Homo sapiens: one gene and its partner. The protein of the gene in region 1 interacts with the protein of each later gene in a biochemical or structural test. Each region holds a gene or a part of one and is shown on either strand. Other genes may lie near its edges. The genes, in order: WIPF3 and ITSN1.

Region 1 (10,428 bases):
AACAGAGATATTGTTATTGTGCCTTTTTTACAGATGAGAAAATAAAAGGTCACAGAGGTTAAATTACTTACTCAGGGTAACAGCCTGGGCACACAGACTTCAAATTCTAGACAGGCAACCTTCAACAGGCAATTTGTGGCCACCTGAATCGGGGCAGAGCGGTCAGGGTGACAGACACTTGTAGGCTGGCTTCCTGCCATTGCCCCCTTTTTGTTCCTTTAGGAGTCTCTGTTTTCACGTAATTGTGAGTGTGACATTGTGTCACAGATTGCAGTTACCCAGCAGCAGAAGGAATGGAGGAAGTGTGTGTGTGTGTGTGTGTGTGTGTGTGTGTGTCTAAGAACATACAGTTATAAGAACAGGGGAAAGCCAGCTGGTCTAGCCTGGCAACGCTCTTTTTAGGAGACTTATTGTTCAGAAACCATATAGTACAGGTTGCGAGTTTGCAGTCACTCCAACACATACACAAAGAATAAAGAATATAACCTAGGAAAGATCCGAGAAAACAAAATGTGATTAACAGTAGAGGGAAACATAGAATTTTCACCAGGATGGCAGTCAACTTTTTTACATTCTAGAATTTATAAATATGTTTATTAATGTTGAAGTTTTTAAAAAAGAAACCTACACAAATAACTCAGCAAAAGGAAGGAAATGTGTTTTCTAGCAAATGTGTTATAAATATTTAATATATATGAACTTTGGTGCAGAAATATTTGAAACATTAGGGTACAGTAGCCTTAAATCTACGGAGAAATCCTGAGAACTTTGTCCTGATGTGTGGTCTTCTAGTGATTTTATTTTTCTGCCTAATATTCCGAACTTAAAGAGGTAGAAACGTCTTTGTTTTACCACCAGTTTCAAGTTGCAGAGTTGAATGTTTGTCTTAGGAAGTTTTGGTGTAAAGAACGTGGGTTAAGGGGAGCAATTTAGAAATAGCTCTGGGTGAGTCCCCTCAGCCCAGTGCCATCGAGCATGGTTCTGCATCACAAAGTTATCTTTAGGCAAGTTTGCCTTGTCACAGTGGTGCTTCTGCCATCTGGCTGCTGGAATATTTAGAAAAGAATCGTAATGTTTGACTGACTTTGCCGACAGCATGACAAAACAAACTTCGAGGGGAACTATTAAATATGAGTTAGGGTTGGTGAGAAAGTGATTAATTGCTTTTTATTTAGCCACTGTACAAAACCGAAGAGGCATGCCTTTCCCCAGCCGATGCTGGGCAGGGGCAGCACACGTGTTTTCTCACTGGCTTCAGCCAGTAGGGCACTTGAAACTCCCCTTTTGCAATTCTAGCTGCGTCTTTCCTTAGACCTGTTCAAGAGGGAACCCGACCATTATGCAGCAGGGGAATTGTGTAGTGAACTGCGGTGTTCAAGTGCCAAGGAGGTAAACTAAAGCAGAGTAAACGTGACAAAAATGCCCAGCGGGCATTATGTGGGCCAGGCACTGTGGAGGAAGATTTTCAAGTGCATCTTGAAGGAATGTTCATCCTATGTGGGTGGTGTTTTCCAGCTAACACCGCATCTAGGATGGTGGCATCCAGGAGAGAGTGCCAGGCCTGCACATGGACTGTGAGAGTCAGCTCTTGGTTAGCTAGGAGGAGGCAGTAGCCAGTCTCAGTGCTTGAGTTTCTGAGGACGTGTGTCTGTGTGAGTGCACATGTGTGTCTGAGCAAGGTGCCCAGGTTGCCATCCACTGTTCCTTAAGAGCTAATGACTAGCTAGCCCTGCCCGGGGCTAGGCTAAGAGCTTTATATGTAGGACATCACTACAGCAGCCCTATAGGGAGCTGATTCTTCATACTCCTTTATCAAAGGGGAGACAGAAGCCGAAGGCTGACTTACTCTCAGAATGATCATGTTGCACCCTGCTGTGGTCTTTTATCAACCCACTCATAACCCCAAGGTGTCCCCAACCTACCTGACTCTCTCTTATTGCACCTGAGCTCCTGGAAGGCAGGAACTGTGTTCATCTCCATTCCCAGCATAGCACCTGCCCCATGCCTGGCAAGTGAGGGGTACTCCCTAAAGGTTGTTGAATGAATTAAAGGACTGTGTAAGTGGAGGAATCAGTAATTGTGTGAGTGAATGAATGAATGAATGAATGAATGAATGAATATCTGGAAGTATGTTCCAAGATCAAAAGACAATTATTTGTTGTGTTTTATCTGTTGTTTTAACTTTCACTGTCTCATTCCCTTTTGTTAATATGGCTCCATCAGGCATAACTGTATGGATGAGATTTCCAATAGTTATCTCCTTTAGGGCTCAGCCTATAAAATCAAAAAGCCTCTGCTTCTTTAAGAAATTATTTATTCTTTTGTATAACTTATGTAAGTCAGAATCCCTGGACTATTTTGCATGAATCTTACATGCATCATTTATTTGCTGTATGATCTTGGACAAATTACTTAACCTCTCTGTGTTTTGGTTTTCTCATCTAGAAAATGAGGATAATAATAGTATTTATCTCATGTTTAAGGCTAATAAGATAGATTTATTCTGTTTTTTTGTTTTTTGATAGGGTCTTGCTCTGTTGCCCAAGCTGGAGTGCAGTGGTTTGATCACAGCTCACTACTGCCTCCAACTCCCACACTCAAGTGATCCTCCCACCTCAGCCTCCTGAGGAATTGGAACTACAGGCACGTGCCACCATGCCCGGCTAATTTTTTTTTATTTTTTGTAGAGACAGGATCTGACTATACTGCCCAGGCTGGTCTCAAACTCCTGGATTTAAGCGATCCTCCTGCCTCAGCCTCCCAAAGTGCTGGGATTACAGACATGATCTGCCTTGCCCAGCCATAAGATAGATTTGGTACTTAGGACAGTGCCTCATTCATAGCAATGTTCAGTCAATTAGCCATTATGATGATGATGATGATGATGATGATGATGATGATGATCTGATGCTTTTAAAAATTGTTTGCCTTAAATGTTCCGTGTTCCATAAAGTGTTCAAGGAGTTTACAAAAATAGCAAACAACATAAAATTAATAGATAATGAAACTGAGGTAAAGGGAACACACGGGTTAGAAAGTGAGATAAAATCAGAGGTAATTTACAGAACCAGAATAGATCATAAGTTGTGGATAGTTTCCAGAGGTGGGAGTAAAAATTTGCCAGAGCTTCCCAGCAGCCAAAACAAAAAAGAAAACATAAATAGTTACCTGATCCACAGTGACCATGAGATAAAAACAGATTGGTTACACAGCTTTTCCTGGTCCTGAAACCTGGGATAACTTTCTCCTGGCAGGTGTTCAATGCACTCACTGTTGCCATAGAGACCTAAGTCTTCAACATCATCCCTGCCATAAAGACAATGGAAGTGCTGTGGTAGAAGGCAAAAGTAAGTGTTTCCTAGAACTTTATTGACTGCAGTTCCGGAGACATAATCCCACACAGCTCAGTAAAAGCTCTTTGCAGGGCCAAAATGCTGTGGTTCAGGGACATTCTGTATTCTTAGCTATGCTTACTGAGTGCCTGGAAGAGCCAGAGCCTTCCTTCCAAAGATTGTAATTCTTATGAGAGTCAGGTAGTGAACAGTCTCATCTTTAAGAACTTTGGCTCTGGCTGAAGCCATTTAAATGAGCCAAATCAGTTTACCTCATCCAGGAAAAGTCCAAAGGGTGTCATTGTGCACATGTGCTCATTAACAGATGATTATGTATTTATGAATTTTCTTAATACCAGCAGTCCATAATTTCCCTTTAGCTGAAAATTTTTATTACCTACTTGGAAAAAGAAAAATCCAGTGCTAGAAAGCATAAATATTTTATTTTTTAAACATTTTTTATTATTGAAATAATAGTGCTCATGTCTTTTAAGCTCCCCACTCCCGTATATATATCCAGATGTGAATTGTAGCAGCTGCCAAAGTAAACAAAACCAAACCAGTGCACACACCCAAATCTGGCTTACATGGATTTGTTTATTTGTCTTGTGGAATTAGACTCCTAAGAAAGGCAGTCTGGGGCCTGTGCAGGAGCTATCTGAGACCAGTATCCATCCATCTTCCTGCTTCACCACACTTAGCCTATAGGACTTCATCCTAAATCTGGTTGCCTCATGATGACGATATGGCTGCAGTATCTCTAGGCTTCCATCTGCAGTCTAGGCAAGAAGACAAGGAAGGTGCAAATAGATAAAGGAATTAATGTCCTTCTATTAGTGAGGTTTTACCTTTTTATTCAGGAAGTGATGCACTCCCTAGGACTTCCACCTGCATCTCATTGGCCAGAACAGTGTCACAGGGTTGTTCTAAATATATTAGAGTCTGATAAATCAAATATTTTTAGCTGGGTAAATTGCAACCCCATCACTCAAATTAGGGCTTCTGCTGTGAGGAAGAAGAGGGAATGGTTATTGAGTAGGCAGCTAGCAGTATCAGCCACCTGACTGACTTCCATTATTAGCCATGTGTCTGACTTAATTAGAAATTACAGAAGGTGACTCAGTAATTTTAAATGTTGTACTCTTCTAGATCTTCATGGAATTAGTGTTAGAGAATGAAATGCACCCAACTGCCTGTGTAAAGATTCCTAAATCGCTATTGTCAGCCTTGCTTCTTCTCTAAATTTCAGATCTGAATTTCCATTTGCCAAAAGCACCTCAAACTCAAAATGTTTCGAATTAAAATCTATTCTCTCTGCTCATTGACCACCGCTTCCCACTCTCTCCTCCGTCTCGTTTAACACTACATTGTCTTGACCACCAAGGACCCAAGGGGTCACCCCAGGCTCTTTCTTCTTCCCCATCCCAGACATCCAATCTGATTTCCTCCTTGGCTCTATCCCATTGCCGTTACTCTGATTTAAATAAATACCCATCCTTACTCATGTGGGTCCCCAAATTGATATACCTGTTTGCTCCTTCCTCTCCCTACAATTCAGTTTCCACACATAGCCCCACGGTGCTGTTTTTAGAACACAGATGTCTAACAACATCTTTCCTCTCTTTAAAAACCTACAAAATAAGGTCCAAAAGCCCAGCATTTGACAGCCTGGCATTGTGAGCTTCCTGCCACAACCCCCAAGCCACAGCACCCATGCACTCACACAGGGCAGGACTCTGCTCATACCCGCCCCTGCTTCAGTCATGGAAGACCTGGCTCAGACATTTCTTTCTGACACTTTACTTGTCCGTAACTTATGGCACAATTAAGTAAATTTTCATGTATGCTTCCAAACTATTTTATATTTCTATTCATATTTTTTGCCCTGGATTCTTTTTTCCTGATATTAATAATGCTACAGCAGTTTTTTTCTTAAAAATCAGTTTTATTGAGCTATAATTCACATACCATAAGATTCAGCTTTTTAAAATACACAATTTCAGTGGTTTTTAGAATTTTCACAGTTGTGCAACCATCGCCATTATTTAATTCCAGACATTTTCATCACCCCAAGAAGAAACCCGTTAATAGTCGCTTCTCATCTCCCTCCCCTCAATCCTTGACAACCACTAATCTATTTTTTATTTCTATAGATATTTGCTATAAACGGAATCTTACAATATGTGGCCTTTTTGGTAAGAGAATTTTTTTTTTTTTTGAGACAGGGTTTCGCTCTGTCACCCAGACTGGAGTCCAGTGGTGCTATCCCAGCTCACTGCAGCCTCGACCACCCAGGCACAGGTGATCCTCCTGCCTTAGCCTCCCAGGTAGCTGGGACTACAGGCGCGTGCCATGACACCCAGCTAATTTTTGTATTTTTAGTAGAGATGGGGTTTTGCCATGTTGGCCAGGCTGGTCTCGAACTCCTAGGCAAGCGATCTGTCTGCCTCCACCTCCCAAAATAAATGTAATAACCTGCTTACGGTTATTATGATTACTCATATATTGGAACTTATTTTGTGTTTTCTTGTATACCCTGTGCTTTATTATTACTTCTTTTTTTCCCTTCCTTTTCTGCCTTCTACAAAAGTGCCTGGCACATAGTAACCTTCAGTAAGTGTTACAAGCTATCATTTGTGGGCAGGAACCATGTAGCTATGGATTTATTTATCCATCAAACATTTATTGATTACCTGCTACTCGTGTTTATAGTTTTGTTGCATGGCTAGCTTAGTGTCTAACAGATAGAAGAAGCTCAGTACATATTTGCTGCATTGCATGGACTGTGCAGAGACTGATGTGCTTGTCGAAGGCTGGGGGAGTTGTGGAAAGCACACAGGCTTGGGATCAAATTCACTTGGGTTGGATCTGATTTTGTCACATCCTAGCTATTTGATCTTGGGTGATTACCTTATGTCTTTGAGCCTTCATTTCCTCATCTGTGAAATGGGGATGATAACATCTGTTGTGAAGAGTTGTTTTGGGGGATGAGAGATAGTTATGTAAGTGACAATCAGAATTGCTAGTGTAGGGAATATGCTCAGTACATGTGAACTATTGTTTTTCTCAGTGAACTGTTTAACTGAGCACCCTCCCAACCATGTACATCAGTATTGAAACACCAACCATGACTGCCCAGGGAATAAAGGTGTAGTCAAAAATGAAACTGGCCCCTTTCCTATGTGGCTGATGTAAGTTATTACCGCCCTATTAGAGGAGGGGACATTTTCCCCTCACATGGTAGAACCAAGGAAAACAACCAAAAGTGTACTTTCTTCTTCCTTTTAACAATAGGAGTCGATTTTAAGTCTCCGATGTCCCTTAAAGCTTCCGTTTATTCTAACACTCGTTTAAACGTTTCAATGAAACATTTTTGTTTCAGTCATGCTTCTCTCCAGGGATTCAGAGAAAAAATAAAGTAGCGTCAGAAATAGGTAAGACAACTACCTAGAAAAAGAGAAGCTTAGCAAGCTTGAAGACAGGCTATTTGGAAATACACAGTCAGAGGAGACAAAAGGAAAAAAAAACAGTAAGACAAGACAAGCAAGCAACCATTTTTCCTGAGTTTCAAATTCCCTTTCCCCACATTTTAAAAGCTTTTGCTCGACTCTTTGTTGCTGTTGTTCTGGTTTTCACCCAAATGTGTATGTCTTGAGGTTAGAAATTTGCCTGCGGACATAGAAGGAAGGCTAAAGAGTAGCCAGGGTTTATGCCTTTTGTTGTCCTTCCTGGCATGCATGGATGCTCAGTGAGTTTTAAGGGATGGTGTTTGATCTGCACTCATTTTGACAGTATCCGTATGAATTACATGTATCTAAAAAAGACGAGCCAAGATACCTGTCCATAGGATCTAGGGAGGCAGTATTTTGTGGCTAGGGGAACAGAGCCCCCACGTGTTATTTCAGACATGTGCACCTTCTCACCAGCATGCTTGTGTTCTCACAGTTAATAAATGACAGGGTCTGCTACAGCTGGAACCAACTTAAAATTATCCATGCCTAATAGAGCATCATGTCTTAAAACCATTCCTTGTTGTGTGTTAACCGTGTGATAACAGAAGAATTAAACTGTAGGGGTTATGACTGGTTTGGGGAGAATTATTTTATTCTGCTCTTGCCTATTTTCCTAGTGCACCTGGTCAGTCGCCTCTAACTTGTGGATGGCTGTGGTGGTGATTTCAGCTGTCCCAGGAAGTCTGTGTGCAAGGCCAGCACAGCAAATCCCACCCTTAGTGCTGAGTCCTACTCTCGATGGCTCCAGCAGCTGCTCCTTTAGACCAAATCGTCAAGACCATTTTAATCTTTTTCTTTATTTGTATTTGCCTTTGAGGTGTAAAGAGATCTCCTAATTCGGATAGTTCAAAATACTTTTAAAAATACTTCTTCACAGTTGTCCCAAATAAAGTGTTTCTCTGAGGTGGTAATCCTGAACTTTTGCTTATTAATTTTTTGAATAAGGAATAATGCACATGACACTTCAAAAAGTATAAAAAGGATGTTCACTGTAAAATATTTCCTGTACTCTATCCTCAGACCACCTAGTTATGCATTCTTCCAGAGAAAAGGCATACTCGTTCTTTTATTATTATTATTATTATCATCATCATCATCATCATCATTTTTTTAGAGACAGAGTCTCTCTCTGTTGCCCAGCTGGAGTGCAGTGGCCTGCCTGATTATGGCTCACTGCAGACTCCATCTCCTGAGCTCAAGCCTCAGCCTCCTGAGTAGCTGGGACTACAAGTACACCAGCTAATTTTTATTTTTATTTTATTTTATTTTATTTTTTAGTAGAGATAGGGACCTGCTTTGTTGCCCAGGCTGGTCTTGAATGTTAGGCCTCAAGTAATCCTGCCCCTGCTTTCCAAAGTGCTGGGATTACAGGCATGAGCTGCCCTGCCCAGCTGCAAACTCATTCTATATACATTTTCTGCTGCCTGCTTTTTTCACATAACACAATGTGGAGATCATTCCAGGTTCATACATACAGGGCTGCCATATTCTTTGTGACAGCTACCTAGTGTGTCAGTATAATGTATGAACCATAATTTAATAATTAGTTTTCAGTTGACAGGTATATACACTATTTCCAGCCTTTTCCTATTAAAACAAATGCTGCAAGTTTTGTCACTGTACAAATTATTTCTCACACGTGAGAAAGATCAGTAAGATAAATTCCTAGAATTGAAATGTGAATTTTTAAATGTTGCTACATTTTCCCATTACCCTTCACAGAAGTTGTACAAATTTATATTCCTACCAATAATTGTCTGATTCCCTGCACTCTCTCCAACACATACATATCAAACTTTTTATCTTTGCCAATTTGATAGGTGAAAATGGTATCTGATTGTGGTTTTGACTTGCATTTTCTCATTAGGAATAACATTGAGGGTCTTTGAATGTGTTTAATTGCCATATATGTTTCCTTATGTGTGAACTGTTTAGGCCTATTTGTGTATTTTCTATCGGGTTATTGATTTTTATTGTAGGAACACCTTATAGAGAAGATAAAACAGCCATTTTACTATAATTTTTATTTTACTGTAATTTCCCCCAGTTTATAATATGACTTATTTTAATGTAATTTCCCTGCAATTTGTAGTATGACTGGGCTTTATTTAATGTGGTTTTATGTATATAGATATGTATTTATTGCTTTGCAGAAACCTTTTCTTCTATACATTTTAGAAAGGTCTTTCTGACTTGTAGATTTTAAAAATTCTCTCATATTTTTAGTATGATTATAATTTCCTTTTTTAGAAATTAAAAATTTGATTCCTTGCAATTTAATGTAAGGCATGAGATCCTTACATTGTTAGCTAACTTAATTTTTTTCCAGATTACTACCCAATTTACTCAATACTTTTTGTTGAATAACTTATCTTTTCCCCACTGATATCCAATGTCTTTCTTTTTTTAAAATAATAACCAAAATTTCCAAAAATACCTAGGTCAATTTCCAGGCTCTCAGGTCTATTACCATTACTGATTCTCCATATAGCAATATCAAATGGTTTTAATGAATATGGCTTTATTATTTGTTTATTATCCAATGATTTTATTTTTCCATGTAAACTTTGAAATCACCTTGAGTAGTTATAAAAAGCAAACAAGTTAGTATTTTCATTATGATCACCTTAAATTTATACATTAATATAGAGAAAAATCAACTTTTGTATGATATTTAGTCTTCCTACCCAAGACTATAGTGTGTTTTTCCACGTCTTCACTGTTTCTCAGTAATGTTTTGAAGTTTTATTTCATGTCTTTGCATATTTTGTTAAGTTTATGCTTAGGTATACTTTTTTAAAGTTGCTATTGTGAACACAATTATTTCTTCACAGTACTTTCTGGCAGTTATTGTTTATATACAGGGATACTTTTTGGAGTTTATTGGTTTGGAAGAGCTACCTTTTTAAATTATCTTATTAATTAAAATAATTTTCCGGCCAGGCACAGTGGCTCAAGCCTGTAATCCCAGCACTTTGGGAGGCCGAGGTGGGGTGGATCACCTGAGGTCAGGAGTTCAAGACCAGCCTGGTCAACATGGTGAAACCCCCATCTCTACTAAATATACAAAAATTAACTGGGGTGGTGGCACATGCCTGTAGTACCAGCTACTCGGGAGGCTGAAGTAGGCGAATCGCTTGAACCTGGGAGATGGAGGTTGCAATGAGTTGAGATCACACCGCTGCACTCCAACCTGGGAGACAGAGCGAGACTCCATCTCAAAAAAAATAATTAAAATAAAAAATAAAAATAATTAAAATAATTAAATTATTTGATTTAATTCTATAAATTAAAATTATATAATATTATATATAATATGTATACTTATTTAATTTAATTATATAAAATTAAGATAATTTTTCCGTGGAGTCTGTTAGGTTTTCCATATATATTGCCATATTATTTGGGGGGAAAACATGATAATTGAGCCTCCTTCTTTTCAACTATTATACAATTTAGTTCTTTCTTTTATCTAATTGAATTGACTACTAGCTGTAGGATAATGATAACTAGTAGTGACAATAGTGGACATGCTTGTCTTGTTCCTGACTTTAATTGGAATTTGTTTAGTCTTTCTCCATTTG
Region 2 (10,428 bases), on another chromosome or scaffold:
AGGATTCCTTGAACCTGGAAGGTTGGGGATACAGTGAATCATGGTCATGCCACTGCACTCAGCCTGGGTGACAGAGTGAGACAAAAGAGAGAAAGAAGAGACAAAGAGAGAAAGAAAGAGAAAGAGGAAGGAAAGAAGGAAGGAATTAAAGGGTAACAAGCATTCATCACTGTTTTAGAAGTTCCATGCCAATAAACAAATACAAGTTATGGTGGCTCATGCCTATAATCTCAGCACTTTGGGAGGCTGCGACAGGAGAACTGCTGGAACCCAGCAGTTCAAGACCATCCTGGGCGATATAACAAGACATCATCTCAAAAAAAAGAAAGACATTGGCCGGGCGCAGTGGCTCACGCCTGTAATTCCAGAACTGTGGGAGGCCGAGACGGGCGGATCACGAGGTCAGGAGATCGAGGCCATCTTGGCTAACACGGTGAAACCCCGTCTCTACTAAAAATACAAAAAATTAGCTGGGCGTGGTGGCTGATGCCTGTAGTCCCAGCTACTCGGGAGGCTGAGGCAGGAGAATGGCATGATCCCGGGAGGTGGAGCTTGCAGTGAGCTGAGATCGTGCCACTGCACTCCAGCCTGGGCAACAGAGCGAGACTCTGTCTCAAAAAAGAAAAAAAAGAAAGAAATACAAGTTAAAAATAAATTATAAATTCTAGGAATGAAAATGGTCCTTTATAAACATGATGGTCTGTATGAAAAACTCGAGAATTTTTAAAAAAGCATAGAAGTCTTAGAGGGCTGAGATTCTATCTTGGTTCAAGGCTACTCACCTAGAGCAATGCCAGGCATATACAGCGTGTACTCAAACATTCACTGAACAGCTAACTAAACTCAGAACTTCCCAATCACGGCTGGGTGCGGTGGCTCACGCCTGTAATCCCAGCACTTTGGGAGGCTGAGGAGGGCAGATCATCTGAAGTGAGGAGTTCGAGATCAGCCTGGCCAACATGGCGAAACCCCGTCTCCACTGAAAATATAAAAATTAGCTGGGCATGGTGGCACATGCCTGCAGTCCCAGCTACTCAGGAGGCTGAGGCAGGAGAATCACTTGAACCCGGGAGGCAGAGGTTGCAGTGAGCCAAGACTGTGCCACTGCGCTCCAGCCTGGGCAACAAAACACGACTCTGTCAAAAAAAAAAAAAAAAAGAACTTCCCAGTCACAGTACTTTAAGTGGATTATAGTTGTGCCAAAGATACTGATGCCCTCAGTTTTGGGGAACGATGCCTACAATTAGTACTAATTATTGCTACTAACACAGTACTAATATTATCTGGAATCACAAAGACTGAGAAGCATTGAATGCAAGACCAAAACATTGCTGGAACTTAGAGTTCCAGCAAGACAAGTTGGTTACCAAATAAATTTGTGTAAGGCCAATAGGCATTTAATAATCATTCACACTCATTGGTAATACAGAAAATAATGCAAGTTAAAACAAATAAAATTGGCTAAGATGTTTTTGGAGATGGTTTTACCCAGTCCTGGTAAGAGAACAGGAAACAAGTACCTTTTACATGATAGGGGGAATGCATCTGAGAGCGGTATGCTGCAAAGGCTTTACAAACAACTTTTGGTCCAAGAATTTTACCTATCTTTATTAAAAAGCAAAAAGACAAAGAATCTATAGGTCCAGCAATAAGTGACTGATTACATATATGACGATGTAGCAAAAAAGGCTGCAAATACAACACATTAAGTGAAAAACACAGGCTACAAAACTGTACGTACCTGAGGCTACAAACTGGCAAGGCAACGAAGACTGAATCCAGCCCTCAGGTATGCTTTGAACCCCAGTGTGTTAACAATAAAAAGTGTGGCCCACATAAAAATCAGAAGATTTCATATTAAACCCACATTCTCCTAAATAACTATAAGGTGTAGTAACACCAGGACGCATCCTCCCAGAACCACAAAGGTCTGGGTTGACTGGCCCTGGACCGTCCTGCCACCTTCAGTGCTCGTGGTCCCTAACAGGCCTTCAACTCTCCCGGGCTAAGTAGCTTCACACCAGGCACCTGCTGGGTAATTTGAGCATGTTGACCTTCACAGGGTATTAACAGTCATTATCACTGGATGGTAAGATCTTGGTAGGCTTTTAGTCTTCTTTCCTTATATATGTTTCCAAAAGTTTTCTTCAATAAACATGTATTCCTTTTGTAGTAGGAAAAAACATGTTATTTTTTAAATTACCAAATCACAACTGTAATATTAATCACTTCATCTACCAAGATCAAAACAACTAAAGATAACAGATAATGACTGTGGTTTAAAACTAATTGAACTAAGAATTAAAGTAAGGTTACGATTACTGCAGGATTTCCCTCCCTTTGATACTAATTAAAACTCCAGATTGGACAGACAACAGCAGCATTTTACAAAACAGATCTTCCTCAAAGAGAACAGCTTCTATAGACAATGCAAAAGCCTGCTATTTTAAGGATTCATTCCCATACATTTAAGATTTCTTTCACTAAAAAAAGGAAACAAAATCTCTCCTATAGAAACCTATATTCATAACCTCAATTAATTTGTTTATAAAGCTAAATAATTCTTGATCTTTGTCTTACACTGCTATTTCATTTGATCAATAGTAATAATTTTATGGGGTTCTCTTTTCCTCAGAGAAACTCCGGAAAGTTTACACAAATTACCATTCATCTCAAACCATTCCTGAGACCTCACAAAGTACACCACATTATCCTCATCACAAAGATAAAGCAGAAGGCTAGGTAGAAACGTCAACATCCATAGACAGCTGGAAGCCGAGTCAATGGAATGTTCCTCTCTATCCATCCTCCAATCCACTCCCACATGATACTCAGAAGGAGATTTTTAAACAAAAGCACATCATGGGACTCCCCTGCTTAAAACTTACATTAACTTCCTACTTCCCAGACATTCAGAGTCAAGTCCCAAGTGGGCCTCTCTCCTTCACTCCCCACCTGTCTCTCTTGCCCCCAGCACTTGCTCTGTACCAGCTCAGAGCCCTCGGGCCTCCAGGCTTGAAGGACCTCAAACACTCCTTGATTTAATAAACCAACAAATAACCCTTGCGTGTCTGCCAGGCAGCAGGCGCTGCTCTAGGGCCTGGGGCTAGCCCCCTGGACAACAGCGATACACTCCCTGCCCTCATGGAGCTAACATCCTGGTAACCCCGCTACCAAGTTTCTTCCTCCTGTAATCATTTAAAGAATATTAAAACAACAATTGTAATAACTGTATCTGAAGGGGTCTAAAAATAAGCAGTGCTACCTATAATACAGATCTATTCTCATTTAATGACTTTAATATTAGCTCTTTATATTAAGTGCAGGAAAGAGGAAAAATAAAGGCAAAGGGAACTACTATTCATTGAAATCTGCTATATACCAAGAATGGCACTCATTTTCTTGTCAATTTTTCAAGGTTTCTCTCATTACTAGCTATATAGCTTTCATTCATCAGTGGCCAAAATGCAATTCTCCAATTCTGCAAGACTGGGGCAGCTGAGTTTCAGATAACTTCAGAAATTGAAAGATAACTTGGTTTTAAAATCTACTATCTTAAGTTCAGAGCGGAAATGAATTGATTTTTGTGAAACACTGGATCCACAATGAACACTCCTATTATAGATAACACACTGGAATGATATATGTGTTTACACAACATTTTGTCTGTGTTAGAACAATAAAACCGGTCAGGAAATTTGCCTTGCAGAGAAGTAATTAACCCTGTACACACACACAGGCAAACAGACACACACACACAAAACGAATGGCTCCAATTCGTTGGAGCTCCAATTCCAATCTTGTTGCAGTGCTTTTATGGTAAGAGTCAGCGTCCTTCTTAACTAGGTTGGTTAAAGCCTGACACTAAAAGCCAGCTGACCTCGTCCACGTCCATGAACTGTATCCATGTCTTGCAAATGCATGCCACCAGACACCAGAACGATTTGCAGACATAATGCAAGGAGGAACACATCAAATGCTCACCAGTGCAACAGAGGAGCAAGAGCATTGTCCTCCTGTATTAAAAAGAGGATGTTTAATTTTAACCACCAAGGGTAAAATTCTGACCACTTGCTGTGTTGCTATGACCTTGTTATTTTCTTTCTTTCTTTTTTTTTTTTTTTTCTGAGACAGAGTCTCGCTCTGTCGCCAAGGCTGGAGTGTAATGGTGCGATGTCAGCTCACTGAAATCTCCACCTCCTGGGTTCAAGCAGGGAATTGAAGCAATTCTCCTGCTTCAGCCTCCCAAGTAGCTGGGATTACACTTGTGCGCCACCACGCCCGCCTAATTTTTGTATTTTTTAGTAGAGATGGGGTTTCACCATGTTGGCCAGGCTGGTCTCAAACTCCTGACCTCATGATCCGCACACCTCGGCCTCTCAAAGTGCTGGGATTACAGGTGTGAGCCACCACGCCCGGCCAGACATTGTTATTTTCACATTCGAATTCACTTGAATTCAAAATTCTGCCACAGCCCTCAGCTCAACTCCTGGCTCCACCACTCAATGAAGGGCCAAACGCACTACCACATGACTCCAGCAGACCCCATACCACACAAAAACAATGACAGGTTTTGGTGACCAACTGAAAACTGAGCTAGGCAGCCAAACTCAGTCCAGAGAGCTGAAGCCAAAACAATTTCACCAATGTTCTCTCTGGGCAGTAAGCTAATAAAGCAAGCTACCTATCATTAATTCTACTAGAAAAACACCGAAAGAGCAGTGATGCATTAAAATAGATTAACTTGCTTAAAATTCACTTTCTTAGAGAGCTACGAACTTTAGGAACAAAACTGGAGTGACATTCTACCATCCCATGTATTAATAAAAATGTTTTGGTTTACTTTTCAGTGATCTCCCAGTGGATGATATCTCTCTACACTGAGGCCTTCACATTCAGGAAGCAAACTTCCTTAGGCCACTTTCTATCTCCAAAGTGGCCAACATTCACATTCAGGAAGTAAACTTCCTTAGGCCACTTTCTATCTCCAAACTCGCCAACATGGAACTACCTGGACACACACACCCAGCTGTCTCCCTCATCACACTTCTGTACAGTCTTGCGTTTCTAAGACAAGTCCACATCACAAGTGAACTGCCTTTTCAAATTTCACTAGTCTTCTCTAGCACTCTAATCCTGTTTTTCATGCAGGGGTACTTTAGGAAAACCACTACAGAGTAAAGGATAACAAGACTACTTTAAGGATGAATGCTGGACAGTTGATGAGGCTAATTTTTCTCTCTCTCCTCTTTCTTTCTCCTTCCTTCTCTTTCTCTTTCTCTCCTTTCTTTTCTCTCTCTCTTGCCCTGCCCTCCCCTTTCTTTTTTGACAAGATCTCACTATGTTGCCCAGTCTGGAGTGCTGTGGCATCTGCAGCCTCCAACTTCTGGGTACAAACAGTCCTCCCACCTCAGCCTCCCTAGTAGCTAGGACTACAGGTGGGCATCACCTCACTGGGCTACTTTTTAAAAAATTTTTTGTAGGGTCTTGCTATGTTGCCCTGGCCAGTCTGGAACTCCTGGGCTCAAGTAATGCTCCCACCTTGGCCTCTCAAGTATTGGGATTACAGGAGTGACCCACAGCACCGGTCCCAAAGCTAATTTCTGAGCTAACTTATGTGACCAACTCTTCAGTGAAAGGGATTCAAATTTGTGCCCCACCCAGTTTATATATTAGTACATGTCAGAGAACCTCTTAGTTACTCCACAACAGCAATCGAGAACATAAAAAGTACCCAAATGCCTATAAAACATGTCTAGGAAACAGGCTAAGAGTTTTGGACTCTACAGTAAAAATCTGCTCAGACACTTGCTGGCTCTCTAATTGCTGGTACCCTAGTTTCCAAGGCATCTGTAAGATGAGAGTTTTTTGTGAAGTGAGTTAATGTATATAAGATGCTGCAAAAGAACTTAATCGACATTAGCTATCACTATTACCCATGCACAAGATTTCTGAGTTTCCATATCACACTACTAAACACATTATACTAACAGTCCATTCTTCTTCCTAAAAGCAAAAATTCACTAGGTTTGTCACTGGTTAAGTCATTCCATAAAATGGGGGAAGGTACAAGGGGCTGGGAGACTGGAAGTCTGATATACCATGGTAAGAGTATAAAATGATACAATCTTTCTAAATGACAAATTGGAAATACGGATTTAAAAAATCCTAAAATTTAGCATAGGCTTTGATCCTGCAAATTCCATTTGTAGAAATTTATCCTAATGAAAATAATCTCACAAGTACATTCAGAGACATATGTAGAAGGACAGTCACTGCAGGGTTATAAGTAACCGTGGAGGAAAAATAAACAAACTAATGTCTAATAAAAATAAATTGGCTAAACCACCAGAGATCCATGACTGGGTGTGGTGGCTCACGCCTGTGATCCCAGCACTTTGGGAGGCTGAGGCAGGTGGATCACCTGAGGTTAGGAGCATGAGACCAGCCTGGCCAACATGACGAAACCCCATCTCCACTAAAAATACAAACATTAGCCAGGCATGGTGGCAGGCATGTGTAATCCCAGTTAATCAGGAGGCTAAGGCAAGAGATTCATTTGAACCTGGGAAGCGTAGGTTGCAGTGAGCCAAGATTGAGCCACTATACACCAGCCTGGGTAACAGACTGAGACTCCGTCTGAAAAAATAAAAATTAAAAAAAAAACTACCATAGATCCATAAAACGGAATATTATTTGGTTACTAAAATTGTTATAATGCAATATATATATAGGAAAAGACACTCATGACAAGATGTTAAGCAAAAAAAAAGCAGGTTACAACCATATGTATAGCAAGATCCCATTTTTGTTACCAGAAATTGTATATGAATAGCCATATGCACACACACAAAAGGATTTGAAGAAATATGTATGCAGGTAGTAGACTTACGGGTATTTCATAGTTTTCTACTTTATACTTTTCTGTATTTCAATTTTTCTACCATAAAACAATTATCTTTTTAAATACAAAGAATATTAGTTGCTCATCATAAACTATATTTTAACCTAAAAGAGATCAGGAGATTTAGTATTTATTTTCAAAACTTATATTAATACATATTTGATAGCTTATTAAATACTTTCAATGTTTAGTCTAGTCATTCAATTAAAAAAATTATACATAGTACCAAGGAGTTAGCAATAAACTTTTTTTTTTCTTTTTTTTTTGAGACAGGGCCTTGCTCTGTCACCCAGGCTAGAGTGCAGTGGCACAATCATAGCTCACTGCAGCCTTGATCTCCTGGGTTCAAGTGATTCTCCCACCTCAGCCTCCGAAGTAGCTGGGACTATAGACGCACACCACCAAAGAAACTTCTTTTTTAAGCAACAGATTTCTACTTACTATCATAAAAGTCCAGTAGTACAATAATTAAATGGGTTAGCTTTTGAGTTTTAGGTATTTTTATACACCCCAATTCTTTATCATCACTGTAACTACCATTTATTAAGTGGATGTGTCTCAAAAACTTAGGTAAGCACTTAGAAGTATGTGAACTTTATTATTACTATTTCCATGTTCAGCTGAGAAATGAGGCATTGAGAGGTTAGATCAAACTCCCTGACTATGTGTGGTCAAACACAATATTCTCCAAAGTTTGAGCTCTTAACTACATAATATCTATGGTGCCCTGTGGTGAACTCTTGAAAAGAAGGTGTAAAGGTCAAATTTTATTAGTATGAAAAGTGAAATTGGAAAACATAACAATTTTCTCTATTTGCTAGAAACCAATTTTTATAGCAGTATGTTGGACTTATGGTTTATAAAATGATATTTTGATATAAGACAATATACCAAATATAAGTTTGATATATGATTTACCACTACACTGTGACTTAAATTTACATTTTGACTCTCTAAGCAAATGCTTTGTTCTGAATCTTCTTTCTGGCTAATCACCTTGAGCACACTACGCCTGGGAAAGGCTCTCTCCTTTCTAAACTAACCAAACTTACAGAAGTCACTGGGGTATAGTGCTTGTGGCTCCTAATTTATAAAATCAGTGACTACTAAAAAAAATTTTTTTGTAATATGCTGGGCTTTAATATGCCACTAACTGATAGATTAATTTGACAAGTAACTTTTAAAAGATTGGCCTCGCTGCAATGTAATTCACGTATTCACTCAACAAATGTTTAATTGAGTTCCTCCAGGCACTGTTTTAGGCCCTGGAGGTAGAGGGGTGAACCAAAGCCTCTGCCTTCTGAAAGGTGTACGACAGGTAAAATTACGCAATCACAGTCAATTGTTTTTTATTAGCAGCCTAAGGGATAAAACTTAATCTGCTACTTGAAAAACTTTCTATCCACTTCAGGAGCTAGTCTCAGGAGATGCTCAGAGAGAAGGAAGCCAGTGGTTTCCAACTTCCCTATGCAGGAGAAATTCCTGGAGAATGCATTAACAACACCAATTCCAGGGCCCCACCTCTAGCTGTCTGATTCTGAAGCGAGGTGACAGAAACCCGTATTTATTTTTATGTATTTATTTACTTACTTACTTTTTGGACACAGGCTCGCTCTCTCTGTCGCCCAGGCTAGAATGCAGTAGGGCAATCATGGCTCACTGCAGCCTCCATCTCCTGGGCTCAAGCGAACCAGATCCTCCCACCTCAGCCTCTAGAAAAGCTGGGAATATAGGCACGAGTCACTAAGCCCAGAATATTAAAAAAAATTTTTTTTTAGAGACCAGGTTTCCCTGTGTTGCCCAAGCTGGTCTCAAATTCCTGGGCCCAAGCTATTCCTACTTCAGCCTCCCAAAGTGTTGGGATTACAAGTTTGATCCACCATGCCCAAAACCTATATTTTTAACAAGTGCCTCCATTAATGCTGATGTAAGTGATCTGAGGCCCACACTTTAAGAAACCCAACCAGTTAAGTGGAGCCATTCAGGAGGAAGTGATCATTCAGAAGGGAACAGCTCTATGGCAGAAGAATTTGAGGTGCATAATATAATCCCAACTCTCGTGTCATCAATTCTCTACAACTCACAAATGTTAGCAAATTAAAAAGATAATTTAGAGTAGAGGAATTTGGACGAAGCATGGTGGCTCATTCCTCTAATCCTAGCTCTTTGGGAGGCTGCCTAGGTGGGAGAATCGTTTAAGGTAGGCGTTTTAGACCAGCCTGAGCAACACAGAGAGACCCTGTCTCTAGAAAAAATTTTAAAATTAGCTGGGCATGGTGGCGTGCATCTGTGATCCCAGATACTCTGGAAGCTGGGGTGGGAAGATCACTGGAGCCCAGGAGGTCGAGGCTGCAGTATGCCAAGATTGCGCCACTGCACTCCAGCCTGTGACATAGCCAGACCCTGCCTCAAGAAAAAAAAAAAGGAAAGGAATTTACCAGCAGCTCCTCCTTAATCTCTTACAGGAGGCTTGATAGTTTGTCCCAGTCTAGGCACTTGGGGAAAAGATAAACTTGAGCAGAGGTTCTACTACCAATATTGAAGATAAGCTTTAGGGAAAAGAAAATTGCTAGTCGACTGCCAAAAAAAAAAAAAAATGCTAACAGCGACAAACATTTCACAGAACTAACTTGCTACCACTCATTTTATGCCCTATTTCACAATGCTTAGTATCTGTGCAATCCGCAGGGTTCCAAAGTACATTAAAAATTTGTTCATTTCCTCTCTTACTCAGGCAGAATAATAAAAGAGTTTTGTGACGGTACCATGCGCCGTAGCAATTTCAACAGAAGCATTCCTAGATAAAGAAATACCATTTTTTTAAAAAAAGATCATACTATCAGAAATGATCTCCACTGGACTACTTAAAGGTGTCTGAAATAATTTTAACACCATCATCAAATTAGTGTCCCTCACTTCTTAATTTATATGACTTAAAAGTCCCTGGATTCTTTACAAACCCATCTGCACTAAGGATTTTTCTTTCATATGTATGTATTTTTCAATGTTTTTACTTACAAGGAAACTCCCATCAAAATAACGTTTCAAGCACACCAGTAAAAGAAATTTTAAACAGAAACATATTTTGTTCTCAGAGATAAACTAAGAAATAATAACTATGAAGGATGTTTAAGCTTCTGCACTCTCAACCTTAAAGTCATCTAAAAATAAAGGTATCCCAACAAATACATTCCTCCTATTCATATTTTGGGGGTTTAGAGTGGCACCATGCAAACCAGCTGGCCTGCTGGGTCCTGGCCCCAGTTCCTGCCCTCACATCCTGTCCACTACATAATCCATGAGATCTCTGTGCCTTTCTTTTCATCCGTTCCACGGGATTAGCAAAACTGCCTCCCCGCTGACAGAACTGAGAATTTCTAGAGGCATTTGTTTGTATGGGATTTGCTGTTATTATCTACCCTCTTCATTGGCCTTGCCTTTATTATCTGTACGTTTTGATCAAGAGGAGCAGCAAGAGAAGAATGCCAACAGACAAGCACAAAGAAACGCATCTGGCCGGAGCC

The links.
Region 2: the proteins of WIPF3 (region 1) and ITSN1 form a complex in vitro, tested with the Homo sapiens proteins (one study listed by BioGRID).

The regions. Positions count from the first base shown.
Region 1 is NC_000007.14:29,808,389-29,818,816, forward strand, and holds part of WIPF3 (WAS/WASL-interacting protein family member 3), read left to right. Parts: intron 1-10,428. UniProt on the Homo sapiens protein: May be a regulator of cytoskeletal organization. May have a role in spermatogenesis.
Region 2 is NC_000021.9:33,643,728-33,654,155, reverse strand, and holds part of ITSN1 (intersectin-1), read right to left. Parts: intron 1-10,428. UniProt on the Homo sapiens protein: Adapter protein that provides a link between the endocytic membrane traffic and the actin assembly machinery. Acts as a guanine nucleotide exchange factor (GEF) for CDC42, and thereby stimulates actin nucleation mediated by WASL and the ARP2/3 complex.